Linked DNA regions of Homo sapiens. The protein of the gene in region 4 purifies or fractionates together with the protein of the main gene of each other region. This does not show direct contact. Each region holds a gene or a part of one and is shown on either strand. Other genes may lie near its edges.

Region 1 (3,500 bases), on a different chromosome or scaffold from region 4:
CTTTTGATCAGAAATTGAAAACCATGTAATACAAAGTTTCTCTTATCTCATTTAAAGCCCACATTAGTATCCATTAGAGTAATCAAGCAACAAATCTCAGCTACTTAGTAGCATCTATCTCTGTTTCCTCAGCCCTCTCAAATCTTCCTGGAAATAAATGGGCACATGAATCCCAATACATATAGAAAGATGCCAGTTCAGTGATTAAAGGCACAGGCTATGGATGTGAGCCCATGCTCCCCACTTGTGGCCACATACTGGAGTGTGATATTTCACCTCCAGTCAGCATCATCAGATGGCGAATGGGAGCTATACTGATTCCCAAGTCATAAATTTTTGTAAGATCCTCCTTCATATAAAGCATTTAGTAAAGTTCCTGTCTCACAAATACCCAACAAATATTTGTTTGAATTAATATTACTGCGGAACCCAAACTGTCGTGGATTTCATTCCCATTCTTTTATTGATTTTTTTGGCTTACCCTTTGTTTTCTCCAACCCACTGACACATGATTTTTCTGCCTTCCCTCACTCCCTCCTGCCCTCACTCTTCTTATGTCACTCAGTCTATCATCATACACTTGCCAACTCTCTCAACAATAATTCCATCTCTTTCTTTCTATTGCTCACTCATCAGGCTAAACCCCACCTCTGCTCAATCCAGTCCTCCACTTTCTCTACAAGAGGCAACGTAGTGTAATGCATGTGGGTGCCACCTCTGGGGTTTGACTGTGCAGGGTTCAAACCCCTGCTCTGATGCCTAACAGCTTTTTATCTTTAAATAAGTCGCTCATCCCTTCTGTAGAATGAAGTTGATAACAATAATGCCTGACTCGAGGATATGTAATGAAATTTAAATGAGACTATGCACTTGGATTTGTGCTGGCCCTGGTAAGCACTCAATAAATTTAGCTGGGATTATTTTTATTATATTACTCTATGCATGAGGCCATGGAATAAAGTTGGGAAAATCACATACCCAGACAGACTACTTGAACTATAAATGTGGAATCACAAACCTCAGTTGCGTCCTTGATACTGTCTGGCAACTCTATTCATCTCCCTAGTACATTTGCTCTCAATGCCTTCAGCTCTTACTTCAAATCTCCCTCACCCTCAGCTGATGACCTTCCTTTCTGCTACATGGAGAAAACAGAAGCCATCAGAAAACTACTGTCATCTGATCATCACCCAATATAGAAAATATACCCACATCTGGACTCATATTCTCCATCTTCTCTCCAATCTAATGGAGGAAGGTTCCCAAAGGCCAGCCCTTTACTTGGGTTTCAGGTTCCCTCCCTAAGGCTTTCCAAGGACTTTCCTCCTGTAGTTTTTTCTTTTCTCTACATCTTTGGTTCCTCCCTAAATGACCCCTCAATGATCCTCACCACCTGGTGTTTATAACCTTGTAAAATTCCCTCTCCTTAGGTTGTGGGTGGAACCTGTGACTTACTTCTAACCAACAGAATATGGCCAAGTTTCTGGCCTATTCCTCCTGACTACATTGCATTATGCAAGGCTCCATCTTGCTGGCAGGCAGGCTCTAAGATTCTCCTTGCTGGCTTGATGAAGTAAGAGGCCAAGCTAAGGAGTCCCATGTGACAAAAAACAGCAGTAAGTAGGGAAGGGGAGGGGGAGAAGAGCTCTACAAGCTGAGAACAACTTCCAACTGATAACCAGCAAGAAGCTAGGACCCTCAGTCCTACAGATGCAAGGGAATGAATTCTGCCAACAATCTATGTAAGCTTACAAGTTAATTATTCCCTGGTCAAGCCTTCAGATGAGAACTCAACCCATGTAGCACCCTGATTGCAGCCTTGTGAGACTCTTCACAGAAAACCTAGTTAAGCTGAGCCTAGACTCCTAACCCACAGAAACTCTAAGAACTGTTTTAAAGCAAAAAAAAATTTGTAGTAATTTGTTACACTACACTACAATAGAAAACTAATAACCCCTCTTCCACATAATTCCCATGATGCTTTAGTCATAACACTAGGGTCTACTGTATCCCATCTTTTAAAAAAACCTAGGCCATAGGCCTTCCAGCTATTCCTCCTCCTCTTTGTTCTCCTTTCCAAAAAACTTGTCAAAAGAGTTTTTCCTGTGTCCCTCTGTCCACACCTCTCATCGGCTGCTCAGCCTACTCCAAGCACATCACTCAAACTTCTCTTGTCAAGGACACTAGTAAGTTCCATCTTATCTAATCCAAATGAACATCTCTCTCTCTCTTTCTTATTCTATATCTCAGCAGCATTCAATACAGTTCATTACTCCCCACCCACTTTTTGGAACTATTTCTTCTCTTGGCTTATTGGACTTTAGATTTTCTAGTTTTCCTTCTACTTATTTGGCTGCTGCTTCTCAATAGTGTTTGCTGGCTTCTCCATTTACACCCAAACTTAAATAGTGCTGTGCCCCAGAATCAGGCCCCAGGCTCTCCTCTCTTGGCCCCCTGCACTCCCTTAAAGCCCCCAGGCTTTACATGACATTAACATACTGATGTCGCTCAAATTCCTCCCACTATCCCTGACCTCTCCTATCCACTCCCCATCTCACCACCATCTGCCTAACCACACCCTCCACCTGGTTGTCCAATAGTCATCTCAGAATTCACATGCACAAAACAGAAAACCTGATTTTTGTTCTCTCGGTTTTCCTAATCTTAGTAAATGGTACCTTCAACCAACATTTACATCATGGTCTCATCCTGGATTCCTCCCTTTCCTTCATTACCCATCAACCAACCCATCCACAAGTTCTTGTAGGTTGATCCTCACAATAGATTCTGAATTTGCCATCTCCTGCCAATCTCTAACTCCAAGCTGCCCTCTCCCTCCCTTGGTCTGTGTAGTGACAGCCACCCAACTGGCCTCCCTGCCTCTACTACTGTCCTCCACACAGCATGGATCTTTTGAAAACTACAAATTACCTTGTAAGACTTTATTGCTTAAAACTTTTCAAAGATTTCACTATCCTTTTAAAGGGCCCACCAGGCTCTCTTTGCAGGCACCTCCCAGCCTCCTTGACATATCTCATACCTACCAAGTTCCAGCCACACTCACCCTTTTCTCCTTTCCACCTCAAGACTTGCAACTGCTACTCCCTCTGCCTGGAAAGCTCTTCCCATGCGAAATGTCTCATATCTCAGGTCAAATGTTCCCTCCTCAGAGAGATCTCACCCACAGTAGCTTTCTCTTCTTCCTTTGAAACTCTAAGATATCATGATTTTCTTCACAGGACACACCACAATCTGAAGTGTTATTCTTGCTTATGCATGTACATCTGCATCTATGTATTTGATTGTTGCTATGATGCCTCTCACTAGATGTGAGCATCAGGAAGGTGTCCACTGCTATGTTCTAGAATAGCTGCTAGCACATAATAGGTGTTCAATAAATATTTGTTGAATAAATGAATGCATGAATATATGTAAGAGGTTAACATTCGTATATGCATTATAATAAAATTATCTAGTGATATTCCATTAGAAAATCTCTT
Region 2 (3,500 bases), on a different chromosome or scaffold from region 4:
CATCAAGTCATCCCCTGAGAAGCTGCAGTTAAACCACATGTTGATAGTTTATATTACAGGTCCATTCTAGTGTACCCATGGAAGAAATAATACTATAAAGAAGTCTTCCCATTTATTGAATACCTATTTTTGTGCCAAGTGCTTTTACATGTTTTAACTGTTATCTTCATGACTGCTCTATATGGAAAATAGTAACTCCATTTTGCACACAAAAGGCATCAAAGTTCAGAAATGTTCGTACTCACTGAAGGCACACAGAAGTTAGTGGCAGAACAAGAATTTGAAGCAGGTCTCCTGCAGAAAAGCTAGATGCTCTCATAGTATCTGTCAGATAACATAGTTGAACCTGAAAGAGGGTGATCAGGAATGGTACACTGGATAACTCCCACACTAAAGAATGTGAGTCGACAACACGTCTTTATGATTTGCTTTGTTCATTAGCATTAGGAAAAAACTGCTCTGTTTTCAAGAACTTTAAAAATTCAGCTTTCCTGCAATTCATAGAAGAGCTTTATTTCATTTTTCTCCTTTACAAATAAGCAAAATGAGATTTAAGATTTTAGAAGTATACTAAAAATGATTTTTAGAAATGAGTTTAGAATATCTCCAAAACATGGTATTTATGATATGACCATTTTTAAAAGAATTTTAAATTATTATTTTTCTTTTCCTTTTGCAGCAAACTTGTCTCTTACCTTTATCTGACCTACATTGGAATAGCGAATTATCACTAAATACATTTTACTGAGAAAAATCTGATGTTTTTGCATTTATCTTAGGAACCATGGACACTGAATCTAAAAAGGACCCTGAAGGTTGTGACAAAAGTGATGACAAAAACACTGTAAACCTCTTTGGGAAAGTTATTGAAACCACAGAGCAAGATCAGGAGCCCAGCGAGGCCACCGTTGGGAATGGTGAGGTCACTCTAACGTATGCAACAGGAACAAAAGAAGAGAGTGCTGGAGTTCAGGGTAAGTGAGCACACAAATTACGTTCTGTTGGTTGGCTGGGGAGGGGTCAGTCCTAGGTGCAGAAAGATATCTGCTAATCTAAAGATGATATATCAATATCTAGTTTAGTGTACTCTTCAAAGTTCTGTATGCCTTTGGAAAAGCATATGTCAGATCATTTTATTCACACTGGGATTTCCATTTTTGCTCTGTTATCTTTGAATGTAAAGGACAGAAATTTATATGTACATTCTCCAGTCATAATCATGCAGTTTTAGGGTATTGTGAGAGATAATCAACTTCTTTTCTGGCACAGATAAATAGAGAAGTATTTCCACAAGCTTAATAGTCACCCTGTCTAGATTCTGGCTTAACCGTCATACTGAAATAGAACTTTGCCTTAAAATAGGAACTTTTCTTTTTATCTTGTGCCCTCTTTGAAGAAGTAGGATTAGGAGAAAATGTACTTTTGCGTTTACTGTGAACCAATACTTATTAGCATATGTGTCATGATTCTAGGTCATCCTAGATCGTACTAAGAAGACGTCTATAAAAGCAAAGGTAGTAAATATTTAGAGTTGGTGGCCACATGTGGTGTCTATCACATATGCTTTTTTTTTACACCCCTTTAAAAATGTATAAGCCATGATTAGCTAGGGAGCTATATGAAAAGCAGGCCATAAACAGGTTTTGGCCCAAAGGTCACAAATGCCATTCCCTGACCTTAATGGAACAAACTTTACAAAAACGTGAGTGGCTCATTGAACGTCTCTGTTTATGGCAGAGATGTGTGTTTTTTCACACATTGCCTAACAAGCTAATTGTTAGAGATTCCAATGAAGGATTATTTCACCAAGATATTGGTGATTTAAAATCATGGTAAAATCTAACATTGTTTGGAGATTGTTTTCCTTAAAATAACAGATAATGGTCGTTCCCTTAAAATAATACATTTCTAAACTTTTTTCCTCTAACAAATCATACACAGATTCTTTAAGATCAATCTCTAACTATATTTGTCAGTGACCCAGTGTCCAATTCTGCTTTTTCTAGTCCACACAATCCAAAAGCATTGAAAGAACATTTTCAACTAAAATGATATGTCAAGGTGTCAGAACACTGATGCTGGTCAGTTTGTCCTTAAGCATGCCATACCCATAAAACAAAAGTAGGAACACTCAACTATGATTGTGGTCATTGCCTTACAGATAACCTCTTTCTAGAGAAGGCTATGCAGCTTGCAAAGAGGCATGCCAATGCCCTTTTCGACTACGCGGTGACAGGAGACGTGAAGATGCTGCTGGCCGTCCAGCGCCATCTCACTGCTGTGCAGGATGAGAATGGGGACAGGTAAGTCAGAACTTTTGCATGATAGGTTGTCCTGGGTGGGGAAGAAGAAGAGCATCGTATAATGCATACTGACTAGAGATAAAAATAATTGTTCAAATATATTGAGTCCTCTAACTGGAATGATGAAGAAAAATAATGTGTGAATAAGGTTAAGTAGCACAATTTGCTGCTCCATCCTGCTGCTGTCATCTGTTGGAATCTGTAGTAGCTGGAGGACTCATCTAAGAGTGAATCTCTCTGGGCAAGAAAACTAAGATGTGTGTAGGTAATGGTACTTTTTGAAAAGCCTTGCTTTGTTTATTGAAGTAATATTTGGAGAATTGTTAAGAGTCCTACCAAATCCCTGAAGCATTGTTATCCCAGCTGCATATTTATGACAGTGTACTCAAGAAAAAGCCCAATAAAGGCAGCAACAACAACAGAAAGATTAAGAGGGACTGGTCATTATTTCCCAGTTACTGGTTTCTTCTCTGCTCCCTCTTCTGATGGTCATCAGTCTATGACTGTTTCAGACTTTTGTGACTGCTCCAGCCCATATGTGGGAGTGGAACATTCCAAACACCATGCCTTCCATTCTTGCTATTACTGAGATTGTATTTGCAAAGCCACCTGGCTTCTTTCTAAAACAGTTCTCTTAGTCCTTTCATTGAGACTTCTAAAATGATCTCAAAAGCCTATAAAAATAACAAGAGACAGCAGCCTTCACATTCAAGTCAAGTGCCTTATCTAAAACCTTCCTAAAATAGCATCAACATAGAGAAATCCTTTTCTGTGGAAGAGCTCTTGAGTGCTGTGTTTTAGACTTCAGTTTAAAAATTAAACCAAGCACTTTAGGAAAGTAACAACCTCAGGGTTTCAAGCAGAGACACCTTTGTTCTCATTCCTTGCAACGTAACCAAGGATGTGGTATAACCACTGGCCTTGTTATACAGTATGAGAGGAACCAGTACAACCTTCTTGGTATAAAGCCATGAACAGCAGAATTCTTTTTCAGGGTTAAATAATCCAGTTAGCATTCAGTAGCATACAACCACAAGAAAAAGCAGTTAACCAAGACAGTACAGCAGTGTTTCAAGTGGCATTTCCAGGGACCTGTTAAATTGATAAGTCTAAGAAGATGAGCACATACAGGTTAGAAAGGAAGTGCTGATATCTGAAGGGAGGATTGTTGGAAGGGATACAAGGCGAGGCACATGC
Region 3 (3,500 bases), on a different chromosome or scaffold from region 4:
GAATATGAAAATATTTTTAGTATTTAATATTTTACATATTTTCACCTAGTACATTTACTTTTTTTATATATAAACTTAATACATTTAGAATTTATTTTTGTGTTTAGTATGAAGTATGGAAATAAATCTTTTTCAAAATGCTCATTGTGCTAGTACCACAGATTGACTAATTCACCCTTTCCCCAGAGATCCTTAGATATCCCATCTTAAAATGCAAAACAGACCTTCATCTGGATTCTCTACACAATTCGACTTCATTTGGTTTTTTTTAGACATAAAGCAATTCACTCTAGTAACTTCTAACTAATTCTAACTACTTAGGACAAAATTGGTCCAAGTAACAGAAAGTGAGGATCCACTTCTGAATGGCCAGGAGCCAAAGTAATTTTTCAAAGAATCAGGAGCCTGAACAACCAGAGTGTGCCACAAGGTGTGACAGAAACCAAAAAGAAAGGTTGCTGCACCAGTGTTTGGTACTACTTCCTAGGTTTTCTCTTACGCAACACAGGAAGAATGTATTGTTTATATATTATATATTTTATTAATATTATGATATACATATACAACATAAGATACATGTTTTGTTTAAAATGAACTTACCTTCTCTCGCAATTCGTCCACACTACTGCTTTCCAATACAACCTCCTGGAAGGGATCCAACTTCATCTCTGAAGGCTTCCACCGTCTTGACAAAACTGCAAGCTGTGACATGGACTTCATCTTCTCTACCCCTAAGAATATGCAAGATTAGGTCATCATTCTATTTCCTCTGAAGGTTCATAATTTGACTTTTCCCTTAGTGCCTTACTAAACAAAAAGATTTACTTCAAGTGTTACTCTTAAAAAGTGGGCACAAGAAAAAACCCAATTATCCCAAGGAGTTTTTGAGAATGAAATATTTACTCTCTTCTCTCCAGTCTCAGAAGATAATTCCTCTCTTCTTCAAACCAGTACTCCTAATTCCACTCCCTCCTGACTCCTGTTGAACACTGCATTACCAATTACTCTCTTCTCTGGATTTCCAATCTTTGTTTCTCTATTGGCTCCTATCCCTATCTAAAATCATAAACAAATCAACTTCACTTTATCCTCTTTTTTCACTAAAGCTATTATTAATCCTTCTCTTTCCATTTACTCCCCAATTTAGTGATTCTTCAAAATTGTCACTTTTCCATTATGTCACTTTTCAAGCATCAACTCAATTGTCACTTTTCAAGCATCAACTCAATTGTCACTTTTCTCTGGTGTACACAAGAAGAACTTCTACTGATTCAGTCCCTTAGTACCTATTATTTTAGAATGACAGGTTTGCAGTTCTGTTTCTTCCACAGACTGTGTGCACCAATAAGTGGTTCTTACTCATTTTTGTAGCACAAGGGATTAGCAGTGTCTGGCAAATTACAGGTCAATAAATACCTCTTGGATTTAATCACATGACATTTCTTACTCAACTATCTTGATGTGAAAATATACTGAAATAATACTGATGCAGGCACCCACCATCTAGTACCATTTTCAGATGAATCCATCTCTGCTAATACATACTCAATCCTTACAAGGGTGACTTCTTTGTCATTTATGATCTCTTCCTGACTTACCCAGGCACAGTGATTATTCCCTACGACCCCAGATACTCAAAGAAATCACAATCTGGAGCACTTGCCTACACACCATAGTAGATGGTATCCTAGTTGTTCCTTACCTCCCAACTTAACTTGTCAATTAATCAGAATTTCAACCATTTAAATTTATGGTTGAATTAGACCTGAAGCAGCCTGAAATACATGAGGTGTTAGTATTATTGAGCTCTCTAAAAACTAGGATAATCTTGTAACAAAATATCCAGAATTCATATTTTACTTTCTACAGAAGAAAAGGAAAATTAAAATTTTCCTAAGCAACAGCAAAAAAAGAATATAGAACTAGTTGTTTACCTTGATGTGATCTTCTAAAAGCCAACTTTCCTCCTATAAGCCTCCCTCCAAACACCAATACTTTAAATGTGCCAATGTTGATAACGAAAACTGGGAGGTGTGACAAGTATGTCTGCTACTTGGACCTCCTCAAGGTCACTGCTATGGGTTGAATTGTGCCCCCCACAAAAAGACATTTTGAAATCCTAATCCCTAGTACCTCAGAATGTGACCTTATTTGGAAATAGGGTCTTTCCAGTGATACTCAAAGTAAAATAAGGTCTTCAGGGTGGGCCCTAATACAATAGGACTAGTGGTTTATGAAAAAGGGGAAAACAATACAGACAGACAAGCCCACAGAAAGAACACCACATGAAGATGAAGGCAGAGACTGGGGTGATGTATCTACAAGCCAAGGTTGCCAATGATGGCCAAAAACCACAGAAGCTAGGAGAGAGTATGGAACAGATTCTCCCCCACAGCACTCAGAAGGAACCAACCCTGTTGACAGCCTGATCTCAGATTGTGAGACAATACACTTCTATTCTTTAAGCCACCTGGCTTAGGACACAAATAGTCATTGTTCTTGAGTCTCTGATAAATTATCAGTACCATGTCTTCAATACAAAATAAGCCATAATAGTAAAAAAGAAACTAAAGAACAAACGTGGCTAAGAAAATATTAGCAGAGTTTTCTTAAAATGTATTAAAAACCTAACTTTGTAATTTCCTCATAAGGGGGAATTAATATTCTCAACATTCAAAAAAAGAATACTTAAAAGGCAAATGGGAACCAGAGAAAGATAGCAGAAGGCTGAAAGACACTGATTATTCTTTCAAAAACAACTTAAGCAGTTACATTAGGACACAGGGGAAGAAAATAAAACTCCCAAGGATAAGACGTAGGTAGGAATCACATCAATCCATAATAAGGATATCGTTATGCTTAATATAACACAAAACACTATAATGTATATTAGATTCCTCGTAACTCATTATTTGATTAAAAACTATAGGCTTCTATTAGTTCTAGAGTATTTCTAACTGATACTTCCCCCCAAAAATATTGAAAATACCATCAAGAACTTCAAGGAAAACCTCCCAGTTGCTGGAAATATTAATATCTTCTTCATAAATATGATAATCCAAAAAGACAGTGCCAGGATTCTTCCATGTTTTTTTCCTTAGACGAAACCTACAAATGTGATAAGACATTTAAAACGACTATAATTTGAAACTCTCAATTTAAAGATTGACACTAATCTGACACCAAAGAAAAATGAACTATGTTCAAATACAAAAGTCAAATAATGAGTTGTTAAAATCTGGGGAAATAAAGAAATGTTTCCAGTAATTCAAATTTAGAATTCTGTATAGGAAATCCAAACAAAATTTTAATACTCTTGTTTAGTCCTATTAAACTAATCTGTCATACTAAAATTCTGAATAGCACAGGAAATTTTAATTCTCCTAGTTTTAGAAAATCATACCAGTCCATTTCAACTGACCACATAGTCTTTCTTCAAATCGCTGATGACATTAATTTTACTTTACCTGTCAATACTGAGCTCTAAACCACATTGCTCC
Region 4 (3,500 bases):
GACAGAATAGAGAGATATGGACTGGGCAATGGCACATATAGATGACTACAGACCGGATGTCGCAGTGTGGGTGCCCTGGGCATATTGATGCGGCATCAGTGCTAGCTTGGAGGGAAATATTATAATAATAGGTACTAATAGCTAGTGTCATGGGTGCTGTCCTTGGTTCTGACCCGTTTAACGTGTTTGCCAACATGGTTTAACATGTTTGCCTTAGTACTTTAGCCCATCATGCAGGTCTGGTGTGGAATACCCACTCTTCTGGGTGTGACAAAAATCAGAATTCTAGAGACTGAAATGGATGGGTCAGACAAAGCTTTGAAGGTGAATTATAGTAAGGATAAATATAAACCGCACAAAGCTGCCCCCCACCTTTCCAACTAGCTGTGCAAATAGAGCATTCGGGGAAATTGTTTCAATAGATGTTTTTGGGGGAGAGGCCTGGGATTTTATTCTAACTTACTGCCATCTTAGGCGTCTTCTGTGATATGACTATCAGATGAAGGCAGTGCAGCCTTTGACCACATTAACTGTAAATGACATGCAGGAAAGGACAGTGGTCCCAGTGTAGTCTTTATTCTTAGACCATAGCTTGGGTCTTTGATCTAGTCCAGAGTAAGAGAATTTTAGTATATGAAGGACCTGGAAATTATAACCAATGGTATAATAATAGTCATTCTTAGAATTGAAGGAACTTTAGTTTGTAAAGCATTTTTCATGCATCATCTCATTTTGATATTTTCAGAATCAAGTAGAGATTATCGTAATCTTATACAGATGAGGAAACTGACTCTGAAAGTTTAATAATTTACCTACATCTGGCCTTTCAACAACCAAGTTTAGTGCTATTATACTACTTCTAATTATTTTGAGAAAAGAGAACAGATATTAACCTTGTAGAGTGCTTGTCTATAAAATGTTTTCATAAAACTGTTGAATTTGATTCTGACAGACAGTGTAAGAAAGGATAGTTGTTACTGGTGATTACCATTTTGTATGTTAGGGCACAAAAATTCAAGGCACAGGGATGTTTCAGTGTTTGTTTCATGTCATAGAACTAGTAAGTGGTGAACCTGGGACTTGAAATGGGAATTTTCTGATGATAAGTTCTGTGTTCTCGTCCCTACACAGAATAAGCTTGGGGAGAAGCTTTATTTCTTGCAACTGTAGAAGACATACTTACCGCCACAGGATGGGAGTTTACAGGTGGCAACAGTGGTGGCCATGTTGATCATCTTCCCATTGTGAATGTCAGGCAGAGGCTGAAAGTGGTTTTCTTTGAGAGTATCCTTGTATCGTGGGAGGTTGAAGCCAATGACCTCTAAGATTCTAGGATTTGTAGACATGGGGCTATTGCTTTTGAGGATTGTCCCATCTGTTTAGGAACAGAAAATGGATACTCACGAAAGGGAGATGAAAAGATTGACAAAAATACATTTAAGCACAATCGACTTTAATTCTTGGATTGCCATTTAACTTTTCATAAGTTTTTCAAGATGAGTCGGTGTTTTGCCTTTTTTGTCTTCTGATCTCCCAGGGATTCACACCGGGTATGGATTAATGGGGATATGATTTGTTATGAGAGACAGTGAGTAAGATGGGAATGAACACAAACTTTGAAGCAAGAAATCCGAGTTCCAGTAGTAAAGCCAAGGGAGTGTAAAATCTTGAGTTCTTTACCTTTCTGTGCTTCATCTGTCAAACTTGGGGCGTCATTGCCCTATAGGAGTGCTGTGAGAGTTATATAAAAGAAAATGAAAAGTCTTATCTTAATATTTGACAAATAACAGAACTGTCCAAGGTCAGCTTTTACACACAGAGAAGAGTTGCTATCAATTGTTTTATCGTAAAAAATCAGAACCAAAAAGAAGTGTATATGTTTATGTACTCATGGATTTGAGTATCTGTAGAACTTTTGATATGACTAAAATATTTTACTTGGTTCAGGATTTCTTTATTCCTCTTATCTTTAAGGAAATGATGGCTGGTACCTTTCTATCTCTCTTCCCGTTCCTTCATTCCCTTTTCTGTTTTGTAGAGCAAGGCTTAGATCACATAGCAGAAAACATTCTTTCGTACCTGGATGCCAGGTCTCTGTGTGCAGCAGAGCTGGTATGTAAAGAATGGCAGCGAGTGATCTCAGAAGGAATGCTTTGGAAGAAGCTGATTGAACGAATGGTACGCACTGATCCCCTATGGAAAGGACTTTCAGAAAGAAGAGGGTGGTAAGTACTTGGGTTGCTTGTTCCCTTGAAAAAATTTTATTGACATAGAGTCAGCTTGATTACTCAAAAATGCAATTATACTTGCAAATGTGCTGGCCTATTTTTAAAAAGGGGGGAAAATGAGTGGTCAAAAGTTGGAAGAAAAAGTTAAAGCTGTTAAAATTTCTCCCTCTGAAATGTGTATTTCCTTTATGAACTGTATTATATAGTTTGATGGGATTTGGCGTTTCAAAGCTATGTATTTATGTTTTTTCCTTCACATTTTGCTTAGTTGATGATACCATTACCAAAATATAGATATGACAAAAATATGAGAAAGTCAGATAGTGCCATTTTGCTGTTTGTTATTACTGCTGGTTGAGGAAGTAATAACAGTGATAGGATTTTTCAGAGAAAACTCATAACTCTGATGCAGCTTTATAGCTAGCTGTATGCTGTATGGCCCAGTTAGCAAAGAGAGAGAGCTACAGACAGAGGTGCATATAGGGCTGTATTTTCCTTACGGGAGGAAGTTTGATGTGTACTAAGTTAGATTTTTCACAAAGCTACATTAGCGCTTTTTATTAAACTCTATGGAATGAAAGGCTAGATTGTTACATATTAGTACTCAGAAAACACGATCAGGATTTTGTTAGAGAGCTGTGAATTGAGCTAAACTTGTCTGTAACATGTAAATTTGTCAGAAATCCTGCTTTTGAACTGTTAAAACTCAATGCAAATTAAAAGACATGAAAGATATATCTTTGTCAGCACCATGTTTAGATAAAATTCACCCTTTTATGTGCAAAAATGTAACATCTGTTTGTTTTTATTTGCCAGGGATCAGTACCTGTTTAAAAACAGACCCACAGATGGCCCTCCAAATTCATTTTATAGGTCATTATACCCAAAGATTATCCAGGATATAGAGGTAACTTTATGATTTATCTGTTTTATGGGCTCTTTGTTTCTTGTTCTCAACTTTTTATGTTGCCTTAGAGTGTTCTTTTGGTCTAAAATCGTAGAACTAATAATTTTTTTTAAAAAGTTGAGCTTTTGGAGTAAATGTGTCATGTTGTATATAATCTGCAGCTATTCTGCAGAGAAAATAATGTCTTTTGCAAAGAATATCTAACTTTTCTAAAACATGAAATGCTTCTGCAAGGCTGCCGGTTAATTCAAACCTTAATCTAAAATCATCTTTTTATTCTAAGCTGATAAATTTTCCAAAATCCAAGGCCCCGTTTTTTTAAGTAAGCATTGTTTTACATTTTTGAGCCATCTCTAGAGAACTAG

Evidence for each region. The genes of interacting proteins can lie anywhere in the genome.
Region 1: the proteins of FBXW11 (region 4) and ZNF704 purify together in Homo sapiens (affinity purification with mass spectrometry; 5 studies listed by BioGRID and IntAct, with this or other methods). This does not show direct contact.
Region 2: the proteins of FBXW11 (region 4) and NFKB1 purify together in Homo sapiens (affinity purification with mass spectrometry; 8 studies listed by BioGRID and IntAct, with this or other methods). This does not show direct contact.
Region 3: the proteins of FBXW11 (region 4) and USP47 purify together in Homo sapiens (affinity purification with mass spectrometry; 11 studies listed by BioGRID and IntAct, with this or other methods). This does not show direct contact.

Annotation. Positions count from the first base shown.
Region 1 is NC_000008.11:80,868,282-80,871,781, forward strand, and holds part of ZNF704 (zinc finger protein 704), read right to left. Parts: intron 1-3,500.
Region 2 is NC_000004.12:102,595,359-102,598,858, forward strand, and holds part of NFKB1 (nuclear factor NF-kappa-B p105 subunit), read left to right. Parts: intron 1-779; coding exon 780-974; intron 975-2,161; coding exon 2,162-2,303; exon of another isoform or gene 2,304-3,500.
Region 3 is NC_000011.10:11,949,972-11,953,471, reverse strand, and holds part of USP47 (ubiquitin carboxyl-terminal hydrolase 47), read right to left. Parts: coding exon 3,468-3,500; intron 3,109-3,467; coding exon 2,990-3,108; intron 732-2,989; coding exon 601-731; intron 1-600. UniProt on the Homo sapiens protein: Ubiquitin-specific protease that specifically deubiquitinates monoubiquitinated DNA polymerase beta (POLB), stabilizing POLB thereby playing a role in base-excision repair (BER). Acts as a regulator of cell growth and genome integrity.
Region 4 is NC_000005.10:171,898,639-171,902,138, reverse strand, and holds part of FBXW11 (F-box/WD repeat-containing protein 11), read left to right. Parts: intron 1-2,038; coding exon 2,039-2,225; intron 2,226-3,044; coding exon 3,045-3,135; intron 3,136-3,500.